Linked DNA regions of Homo sapiens. The protein of the gene in region 3 purifies or fractionates together with the protein of the main gene of each other region. This does not show direct contact. Each region holds a gene or a part of one and is shown on either strand. Other genes may lie near its edges. The genes, in order: DOHH, UBE3C and FN3KRP.

The links.
Region 1: the proteins of FN3KRP (region 3) and DOHH purify together in Homo sapiens (affinity purification with mass spectrometry; 2 studies listed by BioGRID and IntAct, with this or other methods). This does not show direct contact.
Region 2: the proteins of FN3KRP (region 3) and UBE3C purify together in Homo sapiens (affinity purification with mass spectrometry; one large-scale study listed by BioGRID and IntAct). This does not show direct contact.

What each region holds. Positions count from the first base shown.
Region 1 is NC_000019.10:3,490,658-3,494,303, reverse strand, and holds the end of DOHH (deoxyhypusine hydroxylase), read left to right. Parts: intron 1-199; coding exon 200-276; intron 277-392; coding exon of another isoform or gene 393-533; exon of another isoform or gene 534-1,789; intron 1,790-1,804; coding exon 1,805-2,042; intron 2,043-2,492; coding exon 2,493-2,812; 3' UTR 2,813-3,480; downstream 3,481-3,646. UniProt on the Homo sapiens protein: Catalyzes the hydroxylation of the N(6)-(4-aminobutyl)-L-lysine intermediate produced by deoxyhypusine synthase/DHPS on a critical lysine of the eukaryotic translation initiation factor 5A/eIF-5A.
Region 2 is NC_000007.14:157,204,855-157,208,500, forward strand, and holds part of UBE3C (ubiquitin-protein ligase E3C), read left to right. Parts: intron 1-2,543; coding exon 2,544-2,701; intron 2,702-2,848; coding exon 2,849-3,081; intron 3,082-3,646. UniProt on the Homo sapiens protein: E3 ubiquitin-protein ligase that specifically catalyzes 'Lys-29'- and 'Lys-48'-linked polyubiquitin chains.
Region 3 is NC_000017.11:82,715,127-82,718,872, reverse strand, and holds the start of FN3KRP (ketosamine-3-kinase), read right to left. Parts: upstream 2,168-3,746; 5' UTR 2,118-2,167; coding exon 1,977-2,117; intron 430-1,976; exon of another isoform or gene 302-429; intron 1-301.

The DNA.
Region 1 (3,646 bases), on a different chromosome or scaffold from region 3:
TGCCTTGCTCTGGGGAGGGGATGCTGATTGGTCCAGCGGGGAGCCTGTACCGACTGCTGCTCCAATCAGCCGTGGACAGAGGCGGGGCTTCCCCACAGTGGCAGAGCCCTGGGAGGGGTGTCCTCCGGTCCCAGAGGTAGCCGGGCATTTTCCACACATCCACCCCACCAACATGAGCTCTCCGGCTGCTTCTTCCCAGGGGAGGCCCTGGGGGCCATCGGGGACCCGGAAGTTCTGGAGATCCTGAAGCAGTATTCCTCGGACCCCGTCATCGAGGTAACCAGGCCCCTGCTTGTCTCCCTGCCAGTCTCGGGTCCCTGGGAAGCCCTGCCCAGCCCTGCCCCAGCCCTGACCTGGAGCAGCCTCAGACCCTCCCCATCTCTGGTTGCCAGGGCGACCACTTGGCCAAGGATGCCCCAGGGATGAGGAAGGCGAGGGCGACAATCTGGACAGACACTTGCTGCGCCCCATTTGGCAAAACGGCGACAACCAGCTTTGCTCACCCGCTTCCATCCCGGGCCTTGAGCCCCTGAGCCGGCCTGACCCCCTTTCTCTGAACCCCCACGTCCAGTCCCTCTGCCAAGACCCCTCTGAACCCACCCAGTGCCCTCTACCTCTGATACCTTGTCCTGGCCCACCAGACCTCTTCAGAGATCTCCTGCTACCTTCCAACATTTCTTCTTTTTTTTTTTTGAGACGGTGTCTCGCTCTGTCGCCCAGGCTGGAGTGCAGTGGGCGCGATCTCGGCTCACTGCAAGCTCTGCTTCCCAGGTTCATGCTATTCTCCTGCCTCAGCCTCCAGAGTAGCTGGGACTACAGGCGCCTGCCACCACGCTCAGCAAATCTTTTCGTATTTTTAGTAGAGACGGGGTTTCACCATGTTAGCCAGGATGGTCTCGATCTCCTGACCTCGTGATCCACCCGCCTTGGCCTCCAAAGTGCTGGGATTACAGGCGTGAGCCACCGCGCCTGGCCCAAAAATGAAACAAATTTTTATTTTATTAGTTTTTTCTTTATAGAGATGAAGTCCCGCTCTGTCGCCCAGGCTGGTGTTGAACTCCTGGGCTCAAGCGATCCTCCTGCCTTGGTCTCCCTAACTGCTGGGATTAGGGGCATGAGCCGCTTCGGCCGGCCCGTCATTCCTTTTTGTGGCTGAGTCACGTTCCGTGGTGTGGACGGCCCATGCTGTGTCCACTCACTGTGGCTGGATGCTTGAATTGTCTCTGCTTTTTAGCTGTTATGAGTTATGCCGCCACGGACATGCATGTTCCTTTCTCCCCTGCCACTTCTTGTCCACATCCCACCCCGACCCTCAGTCTCTCCTCCTCCGGGGCAGCCGGGGGTACGTGTGACACTCAATTCTGCTGTTCTGTTCCATGCTTAAAGCTCTCACGATATCTCATCACCTTTAGGACAAAATCCCAAGCCCTTACAGTGGCCCGCAGGCCTTACCTGGTCAGGTGGGGCCGCACATGTTCCTTTGGCCCTCACCCCTCCCGCAGGGTCCTGCCTCAGGGCCTTTCCACCGCTGCTTCCCCATCCCCGGGTCTCCACCTGATTCCCTCCCTAAGCTGGCTTAGGTCTCTGCCTCCACATCACCTCCTCCCTGAGGCCCTCCCCAGCCCTCCAGTCCCCCGGTCACTCACAAGTCAGCCACCCCTGCTGGCTTACTTCCTGCCTGGAATGATGGGTTAGTCACCCTGCCAGTGTCTCTCTCCCCTGCTAAGCTGCCATCCCGGGGGGTGGGGAAGGGCCCCTGCGACCCCCCAGGGCCAACCCGCTGCCTGATACCCCCTCCCCGCAGGTGGCCGAGACCTGCCAGCTGGCCGTGCGCAGGCTGGAGTGGCTGCAGCAGCACGGCGGGGAGCCGGCGGCGGGACCCTACCTCTCCGTGGACCCTGCCCCGCCGGCTGAGGAGCGTGACGTGGGGCGCCTGCGGGAGGCGCTGCTGGATGAGTCCCGGCCGCTCTTCGAGCGATACCGCGCCATGTTCGCCCTGCGCAACGCGGGAGGCGAGGAGGCCGCCCTGGCGCTGGCCGAGGGTGAGGAGGGGCTTCTGGGGTGGGGTCCTGGGCAGTGCCTCGCTGTGAGGTTCAGTGATGGCATCTGTGCAGTGGGGCCGCGGCCTGCCCCCGGGAACGGCATCCCGGGCCTGGCCCCAAGCATTTCCCATGGGGCCTCTTAAGAACCCGTGCAAGCGTCCCTCTTGGTCCCCATAGCTCCCAGCTTTTCCCGCCCCCATAGCTGCGGTCAGTTCCCCCGGGCATCCCTAATCACTGGGGCTGGGGGCAGGGGTGTCTTCAAGGTAGAACACCCCAGGTTGGGCGTGGTGGCTCACGCCTGTCGTCCCAGCACTTTGGGAGGCCGGGATGGGAAGATCGCCAGGACTTTGTGACCTGCCTGGGCAAGATAGCAAGACCCCATGTCTTCGAAAAGACAGAGCTCCCCTTCCCACCCCTCCTGGCCCCAGCGAGTGTCCCTCTCCCCTGCAGGTCTGCACTGTGGGAGCGCCCTCTTCCGCCACGAGGTCGGCTACGTCCTGGGACAGCTGCAGCACGAGGCGGCGGTGCCCCAGCTGGCGGCCGCCCTGGCCCGATGCACCGAGAACCCCATGGTGCGGCACGAGTGCGCGGAGGCCCTGGGCGCCATTGCCCGGCCCGCCTGCCTGGCCGCGCTGCAGGCTCACGCGGACGACCCAGAGCGCGTGGTGCGTGAGAGCTGCGAGGTGGCTCTGGACATGTATGAGCACGAGACCGGGCGGGCCTTCCAGTACGCGGACGGCCTGGAGCAGCTGCGCGGGGCCCCCTCCTAGGGCCCCACCCTCACCCGGAGCTCCCGGAGGACTCTTGAGGGCCGCTCCTCCCCCGCAGAGCTTTGGCGTCTAAACCGGGTGTGTGTAAATCGGTGTCATCGCTTGTGTCTTGCTGGGCGCATGGTTGCTGTCCCCCTCCTCCGTCTGGGACCGAGGAGCTGCCGTTGTGCTGTGACTCCCTGAGTCCCCTGACTGCTCCTCGGGGCCTGGCGCAGGGCTGTAGCGTGGAAGTTTCCAGGCTTGGGGTGGGACTCTGCGGGAGGCTCTGGGATGCCCGGCTCAGGACAGGGGAGGATTGCGAGGGAAGCCAGGGGAGGATCGCGAGGGAAGCCAGGGGAGGATCGCGAGGGAAGCCAGGGGAGGATCGCGAGGGAAGCCAGGGGAGGATCGCGAGGGAAGCCAAGGGAGGATCGCGAGGGGAGCCAGGGGAGGATCGCGAGGGAAGCCAGGGGCAGAGCTGGGGCTCTGGGAAGAGGCTGACGTTATGGTGGCTTCAGCTTCACTAGGAATGGGACACAGGGTCTGGGGGCCTCTGACTCCCCCACCCCGAGGCCTGGGTAGGGACAGGGTGGTGGTCCCTGAGTGGGTCAGGTAGGGCACAGGGGCCAGGGAGGGACAAGCAGACCTCAGAGCGCTGCCCAGATGGAATATTAAATTATTTTTGCCAAGCACTGACTCCTCTGAGTGTGTTGGGTGAGGGGAGCGTGGGAGGGAGGGAGGGGTGGGGGCTTTCAGGGAACGTTCCCCGAGAGTGTGTGGCGTCTGGGCGGGGAGACGGTTGTATCCGCAGCCATTGGCTCTAGGATCTGTCCTGCTGCTGACACTGAGCCACCA
Region 2 (3,646 bases), on a different chromosome or scaffold from region 3:
AACCTGTTAAAGCAAGAATCCGTTCTTAAAAGCTCTTTGCAAGGGTGGGGGACATTGGACGAGGAGGAGGAGTGGTTCCCACAGGCACGCAATTTGAAAACCCTTGTTCTCAAGATCTAGACAGAGGTTAGGGATTGCCTCGGGTCTCACTGATGGTCAGTAATTCACCTAGCTCCCCTGAGTTATGTGTGAATCAGTGTCTTTTCCATTACAGTAAGTTGCAGACTTTATTTGCACATAAGTCTTTGAGACTGACCTGTTTTCAGAGGAATATTTGAGTCAGTGTTTATAGCAGAAAGAATGGTCAGCAGAGAACTAAGAGACCTGTGTCTCGTTTGTGCCCTGTCTGCAGGGCAGCATTGGCACATATCCTTGCCAATCCCAGTTTTTGTCATTAAAGTAAAAATGATGCATTCCTTTTGCTTGTTTCACAGGGGGTTTGAAGAGGACAAATAAGTTTTTGTTGGTTAATTACCCTGTCCCTTTTTTTTTTGGACCCAATATAAGAATTTTATGCATCCTGCAATATGTGTGCATAACTGATGATGTGTTGGTGGTGATGATTCTTGTCAGGGATAACAGTACAAGTACAAGGATTCTTGTCGGGGATAACAGTGGAAAGCAGGCTCATCAAGACGCAGGAGTGGGCTCCAGCTGTCATAGGCAGGGCTGTTGAAAGAAGCCACCCCTGTCCAGTTAAGGCAGCCCTGTGCCTTTTTTATCCTCCATATAAACAACCTTTTTGTGTCATCCTGGCTTTGGCAATGAGGTAGGACAATTGTGCTTTGTCCCTTTTTGAATGTCCCACAATGTTTAAATTTTGGAAGAATGGCATTCATTCATTGATGAATCTGTTCAGCATAGTGCTAAATGCAGAGTATCACAACTGCAAACATGGATCATGTATGCTCAGGTTGTGTAGCATGTGGACATAGTGTATCTTCTCTGTGGGAACACAGTTTCAGGTGCACATATGGGTTCCTTTTCTCAAAGCGGTTGATGATGGCAGTGCCCTCCCCTGAACCATGCACCATGGAGACTCAGAAGCTCCAGGTGGCTCAGCCAAGCTCCTTACGGCCCCGCTAATTAGAACAAGTGGCCTTACCTTCTGCTTTGCTTTCATACATGATTTGTAGATCCTGACTCCTGGTTACATCTCATCTAATATATACCTGTAGTTTTGTGGAAATGGATATTTGGGGAGATAAGAGAGTGATCTTGCTCACAGTGTCTGTTAACCTGTGATTGATTTGACTTGGTAGAGGGGACCATGGACTTTATAGAAAGAGCTTGCAGGTGAGCCTATTAGCTAAAAGTTCCATAAGACAAGGAACCAGACTTAAAAACGAGAGAAAAGGAAGAAGTTCTAGGTGAAATAAGTCAATTTAATATATCGTAGCTCTTTTTTATTTATTTATTTTTTTTGGAAACGGAGTCTCGCCCTGTTGCCCAGGCTGGAGTGCAATGGCACGATCTCGGCTCACTGCAACCTCCGCTGCTCGGGTTCAAGTGATTCCCCTGCCTCAGCCTCCCAAGTAGCTGGGATTACAGGCACGTGCCACCACACCCAGCTAATTTTTTGTATCTTTAGTAGAGATGGGGTTTCACCATGTTGGCCAGGCTGGTCTCGAACTCTTGACCTTGTGATCCACCCACCTCGGCCTCCCAGAGTGCTGGGATTACAGGCGTGAGCCACCATACCCAGCCTTTTTTCTTTTCTTTTTTTTTTTCCTTAATATTTTAAACTTCTTTGAAACAGAGTCTGGCTCTGTTCCCCAGGCTGGAGTGCAGTGGCGCAATCTCAGCTCATGGCAACCTCTGCCTCCTGGGCTCAAGCCATTCTCCTGCCTCAGCCTCCTATGTAACTAGGAAGGACTACAGGCACCTATCACCACACCTGGCTAATTAATTTAATATATCATAGCTCTTGATGGGTGAAAGGCTGCTGAGTAAAGACCACCTTAGCTGCTGTGAAAGCAGGAGCAGGATGGGAGCTGGTGAATAAAGTGGACAGTGGGAGCAAGGCCACCATAGAGAACTGGAAACTTTGTTTCTTGAGGTTCCAGTTTGGCTTCAATATTGAATAGCTTTCAACGTTACCAAAAGTTAAGTCGCTGGATAAATTTTTCCTGAGACCAGAATGATTTGCCTTTATTAAATATGTTGAGTAGAAGGGAAGGGGGATGGTTTCCTCATAAGAGTAAAGTACATGTGTGTCTTGAATAGTGGCCTTATTAGAGCTCTTCTTAGGGCCTTAGTCTGGGAACGACTGGCTTACTCTTAGTAACTTCATTATCTAGTTGGTACAGGTAGCAGAAACCTTAGTGAAGATTAATGGGTTGGTATGCTATTTTTTGTATTAATCTATGCTGTTTATTAACCTGCATTGCCATGGTGACTTTACCTTGCCTTTAAATAGTTTAATTCCTAATGCAAATGTTACTTTCCCTGATTATATTTGTTTGATGTTATGTTTTAATTAGTTCCCAAACTAAGACTAATTTTAAAGTGACTGGTTTTTTTCTTCTTTTCTTTAATTCAAGGTCTATGGTACCGTTGCTTCAGGTGATATCCAGGGGTTCTCCTATGTCTTTTGAAGATTCTAGTCGAATCATCCCACTCTTTTATCTTTTTAGCTCCTTGTTTAGTCATTCACTAATTTCCATACATGATAACGAATTCTTCGGTGATCCCATAGAAGGTAAGGATTTTGAGAAACCAGTTTGCTGCTGGCCACTTGGCCCATCAGTTTTCATAGACAGTAGAAAAGTTTTAAGCTTTTTAAGTCTTTCAGTGTGTGTTAAAAGATGGAAAAAGAAACAATAGAAAACTGGATTGTGTTTTTTAGTTGTAGGTCAAAGACAATCATCAATGATGCCTTTTACTTTAGAAGAGCTGATAATGTTGTCTCGATGCCTTCGAGATGCATGCCTGGGGATCATCAAGTTGGCTTATCCAGAAACCAAGCCAGAAGTTCGAGAAGAATATATTACAGCATTTCAGAGTATTGGAGTTACTACTAGCTCTGAAATGCAACAATGCATACAGATGGAACAGAAAAGATGGATTCAGTTATTTAAGGTATAGAGTATATGTATTTTTTTGTTTACTGACATTGAAAAATGTACAAACTTTTGTCTTGACTCGTTGCAGAGGAATAAAAATGCAGGTTTGTTTCAGACATGTTTTAATTTGCAAGACTTTTTTTTTTTTTTTTTTTTTTTTTTTTTTTTTTTTTGATACATGGACTTGATGTGTCTCCCAGGCTGGAGTGCAATGACACCATCATACTCCACTGCAGCCTTGAACTCCTGGGATCAAGCAATCCTCTCACCTCAGCCTCCTGAGTAGCTGGGGCTACTGGCACATGCCACCACACCCAGCTAATTTATTAGTTTTTTTGTAGAGACAGAGTCTCACTGTGTTACCCAGGCTGGTCTCAAATTCCTGGCCTCATGGATTCCTCCTGCTTCTGCCTCCCATAGTGCTGGGATTATAGGCGTGAGCCACTGCAGCTGGCCTATATACCTTTTTAATTAAGAAAAGTAATTTTAGTACTTTTGATTAATTAAGGTAATTTAATTAACTAAAATTACTTTCATTTTAATTTACATTTGCCTCACTTAAAACCATGTTTTTAAACCTT
Region 3 (3,746 bases):
AGGGAGGCAAGGTTACTTCCGGAAGGTTCTGTAGATATGTTTTCCTCTAGCATTACAACTTCAAACCAAGACTATCCTGACTGAGGATTCCATACACATGGACAGTGTTTTCAAACACACTTGCCAACAGGGTAGGCTACAGGTTCAGAGGCTGTACTGGAAGAAGAGGGCTTGAGCTTTCCAGTGTTGGACTACACTTGTGTGCTGTGGTTGAATTGGGAGGTTCTCTGGAGAGAGGAAAATCGAAGGCACTAATATTCCACTAAGATCCGGCAACAGTGGGACTGTGAACATGGGTTACCTGTCAGTGTCCTCAGACGACACCTCAACTGCAGTCCTGTTCCACCTACAGGACACAGACTCACCCGACCTCTCAGGTGCAGGCGGCACCCTGGCTGCCTATGCCAGTGACCTGGGGTCACTTTTCACCTGAAGAGACCACCAAGTTCCATGCCACCTCCTGCCCAGCACTGGAAACCACCTCATCTTGAGATGCCGTTTCCATCCAACTCCCCGGGACCACAGCAACTCCTCCCTTGGGTCCCCCTGGCTCACCACACAGCAGTGATCCCTAGAGTAGAAGTCAGAGCCAGCGGCCTTTCCTTTCCTCCTGCTACACACACCACTGCCCTGCCTGCTCTCCCATCCTCATCTGGGGCTCCACCCTTACACACACAGACACATAACACACACACACAACATATACAGACACACAACACACACACAACACATACAGACACACAACACACACAACATACGACTTACAGACACACCATACACACACAACACACAGACACACACACACAACATACACAGCAGTGATCCCCGCAGAACAGGTCAGGGCCAGCGGCCTTTCTTTTTCTCCTGAGACACACACCACTGCCCTGCCCACTCTCCCATCCTCACCTGGGGCTCCACCCTTACACACACACAGACACACAATACATACACACAACATACAAACATTACAAACATACACACATACAACGTACACACACACAACATACACATAGACACACACACTCTCCTCGTGCTCCTGACTTCCAGCTGTCTTCATCCTTCTTTCAGTTCTTCAGAGTCCCCACCTCCTCAGCCTCAGAGCCCCACCACAGCTGCCATGTCACCGCTGCTAGGAACACTCTTTTTTTTTTGAGACGGAGTCTCATTCAGTCACCCAGCAGGCTGGAGTGCAGTGGCGCGATCTCGACTCACTGCAACCTCTGCCTCCTGGGTTCAAGCGATTCTTCTGCCTCAGCCTCCCGAGTAGCTGGGATTACAGGCGCCCGCCACCACGCCCAGCTAATTTTTGTATTTTTAATAGAGACGGGGGTTTCACCTTGTTGGCCAGGCTGGTCTCGAACTCCTGACTTCGCGCTCCACCCACCTCTGTCTCCCAAAGTGCTGGGATTACAGGCGTGAGCCACCGCGCCCGGCCCGAGAATGAGTCTAACAGAAGGACAGAGCATGCCAGGGTGTGGTGAGGCGCAGCAGCTGGCCTGGGGGCAGCACCTTCGCCCCGTTTCACAACGTACTGACCGAGGCTCACGGGGGATGGACACCTCCAGAGTCACTTAAGCTGAGGACTTAAGCAGCTTCCCCGGCTAGAACGACCCCACTTAACCAGCACCGCAGGGCAGGAACCCCGGGAGCAAGACTGCAGCAGCCAGTCCCGCCCCATTTCACGTAGCGCCCCCGAGAGAAAGTTCACGGAGAACAGGAGGTGTGGGGCGGCCGCGGTTCCTGCTCCGGACAGTTCCCCGCAGGTGCAAACTCCTCCGGACGCCCCGGACGCTTCCGCCGCCCCCGTTCACCGCTCGCCCCGCGCAAAGGGTTCCCCGCAAGGGGCGGCGGCGGCAGTCCCGGGAGAGCCACCCACGGCCTCCGGCGGGAGAAGCCCAGGCCGCGCCCCGCGCCGAGGCCCGCGACCCTCTCCGGAAAGAAACCGGTCCCCCGGCCCGCCCGACCCGCTGCCTGACCTCCGCCTTGGGGTTCACTTTCACGAACACTCGTCCTTGATCCGTGTCGTAGCTCCGGCCCTGGCTGATGCACCCGCCCCCCGAGTGGCCCGTGGCCCTGACAGAGCTGCAGCCCAGCTCGCGCCTCAGGAGCTCCTCCATGTTCCCGCCGCGGCCGCGGACCCGCCCCGGATCTGGCGGAGACTCGAGAGACGGCGGCCGAGCGGGCAAACATGAGTCCGCGCGAGGATTGGGCGGGGGGCGGGTGGGGGCGGGGCCCGGCCGCAGAGACAAGCGCTAGGATTGGGTGGCGGGAAGGGGCGGGCGTGGCCGCAGAGATGAGCGCTGGGATTGAGGGGCGGGAAGGGGAGGGGCCGGGAGGCAGGTAGGCGCGGGGGATTGGGTGGGGGTGAGATGACGTCAGGGGGCGGGGCCTGACCGACCCCGACCCAGACGGTTTGGGTTCAACTCTCCTGCACAAAATAAGTGGAAATGCTGATGGAAATAGTTAGAATATATTTTCTAAAGAGCTGACCCACTAGCAAGGGGCATCAGCCCAAGGTCTGGGTGCCGGGAGCCCAGAATGTTAAGATTGCTTTCGCCCGGGCGTTTGCTGAACCCGAGGAACAGAGCTCCTGATGTGGGGAGTGGCGGGCGCGCTCGGGGTGCACGTGCAACGGAGACACCGCCCCTAAACCTGGGGCCCTGAGGCTAACAGCTAACAGTGGCCCTGCCGTTACGGCCAGTGTCAGGTGCCAGCTGGGCTGGACCAGGAATTCCCAGAAACCTGGCAAGGCATGATTTGGGGTGGGTCGTGCTGAGGGCCACACCATCCGCTTCCCCGCTTCTGAGGCCTTCCGACCTGGGCTGAGCCCGGCTACCCGAGTCCCGGGGTCTCCGGCTCACAGACTTCTCGGCCTCCGTAATTGCAAACGCCAGCTCCCCCAGTCCATCTCCTGTCCTGGATCTACGTCTATATCCTACTGGATCCGTCTCTCTGGAGAACCCTAATACAGCTGTCAACACAAGGATGAACTAACTACAAGAAGGCCTGAATAGGAACTCTCCCAGGGGACGAAGAGGTTTCAGCCTTCAGCAAAGGATGGTTCATAGAAACCGTTCGCATAGTCGGCCCTCCACGGACTGCAACCCTAGTTAATATTACCTACAGTAAACAAAAAATTCAAGTATAGATTTTAGTCTAAAGCAAATAGGAAATGTCGCTTCCCTGGACGTTGGGAGAAGCAAACACGAATCCTCTCCTGAGGCCGGAAGCGGTGGCTCACGCCTGTAATCCCAGCACTTTGGGAGGCTGAGGCGGGCGGATCATTTTATAACTATCTATTAAATGGTACATATGTGTGTGTTCACGCACTTTTCTGTGTGTATACCGCATTTCATAATTTTAAAAAGCAAAAAAGATTAGCGGGGCGTGGTGGCGGGCGCTTGTAATCCCAGATACTCGGGAGGCTGAGGCAGGAGAATCGCTTGAACCCGGGAGGCGGAGGTTGCAGTGAGCTGAGATCCCGCCATTGCACTCCAGCCTGGGTGACAAGAGCAAAACTCCGTCTCAAAAAAAAAAAAGGCAAAAAAGAACAGATGAAAATCCGCAGATGGTAATAGATAAATCAAGGAACACATTAGAGAAGAGTGAGAGAATTAAAAGGTGCTCCAAAGGCGGTGGAGTGGGTGAACCACTCCCTGTATGCTCCTCCCCTCGGGCCAGGGCCTGCGGATGTCCCTGTTTTAATCTGTGGCCTTGACCGTTTGGACATTTTAACTCCATGCCAT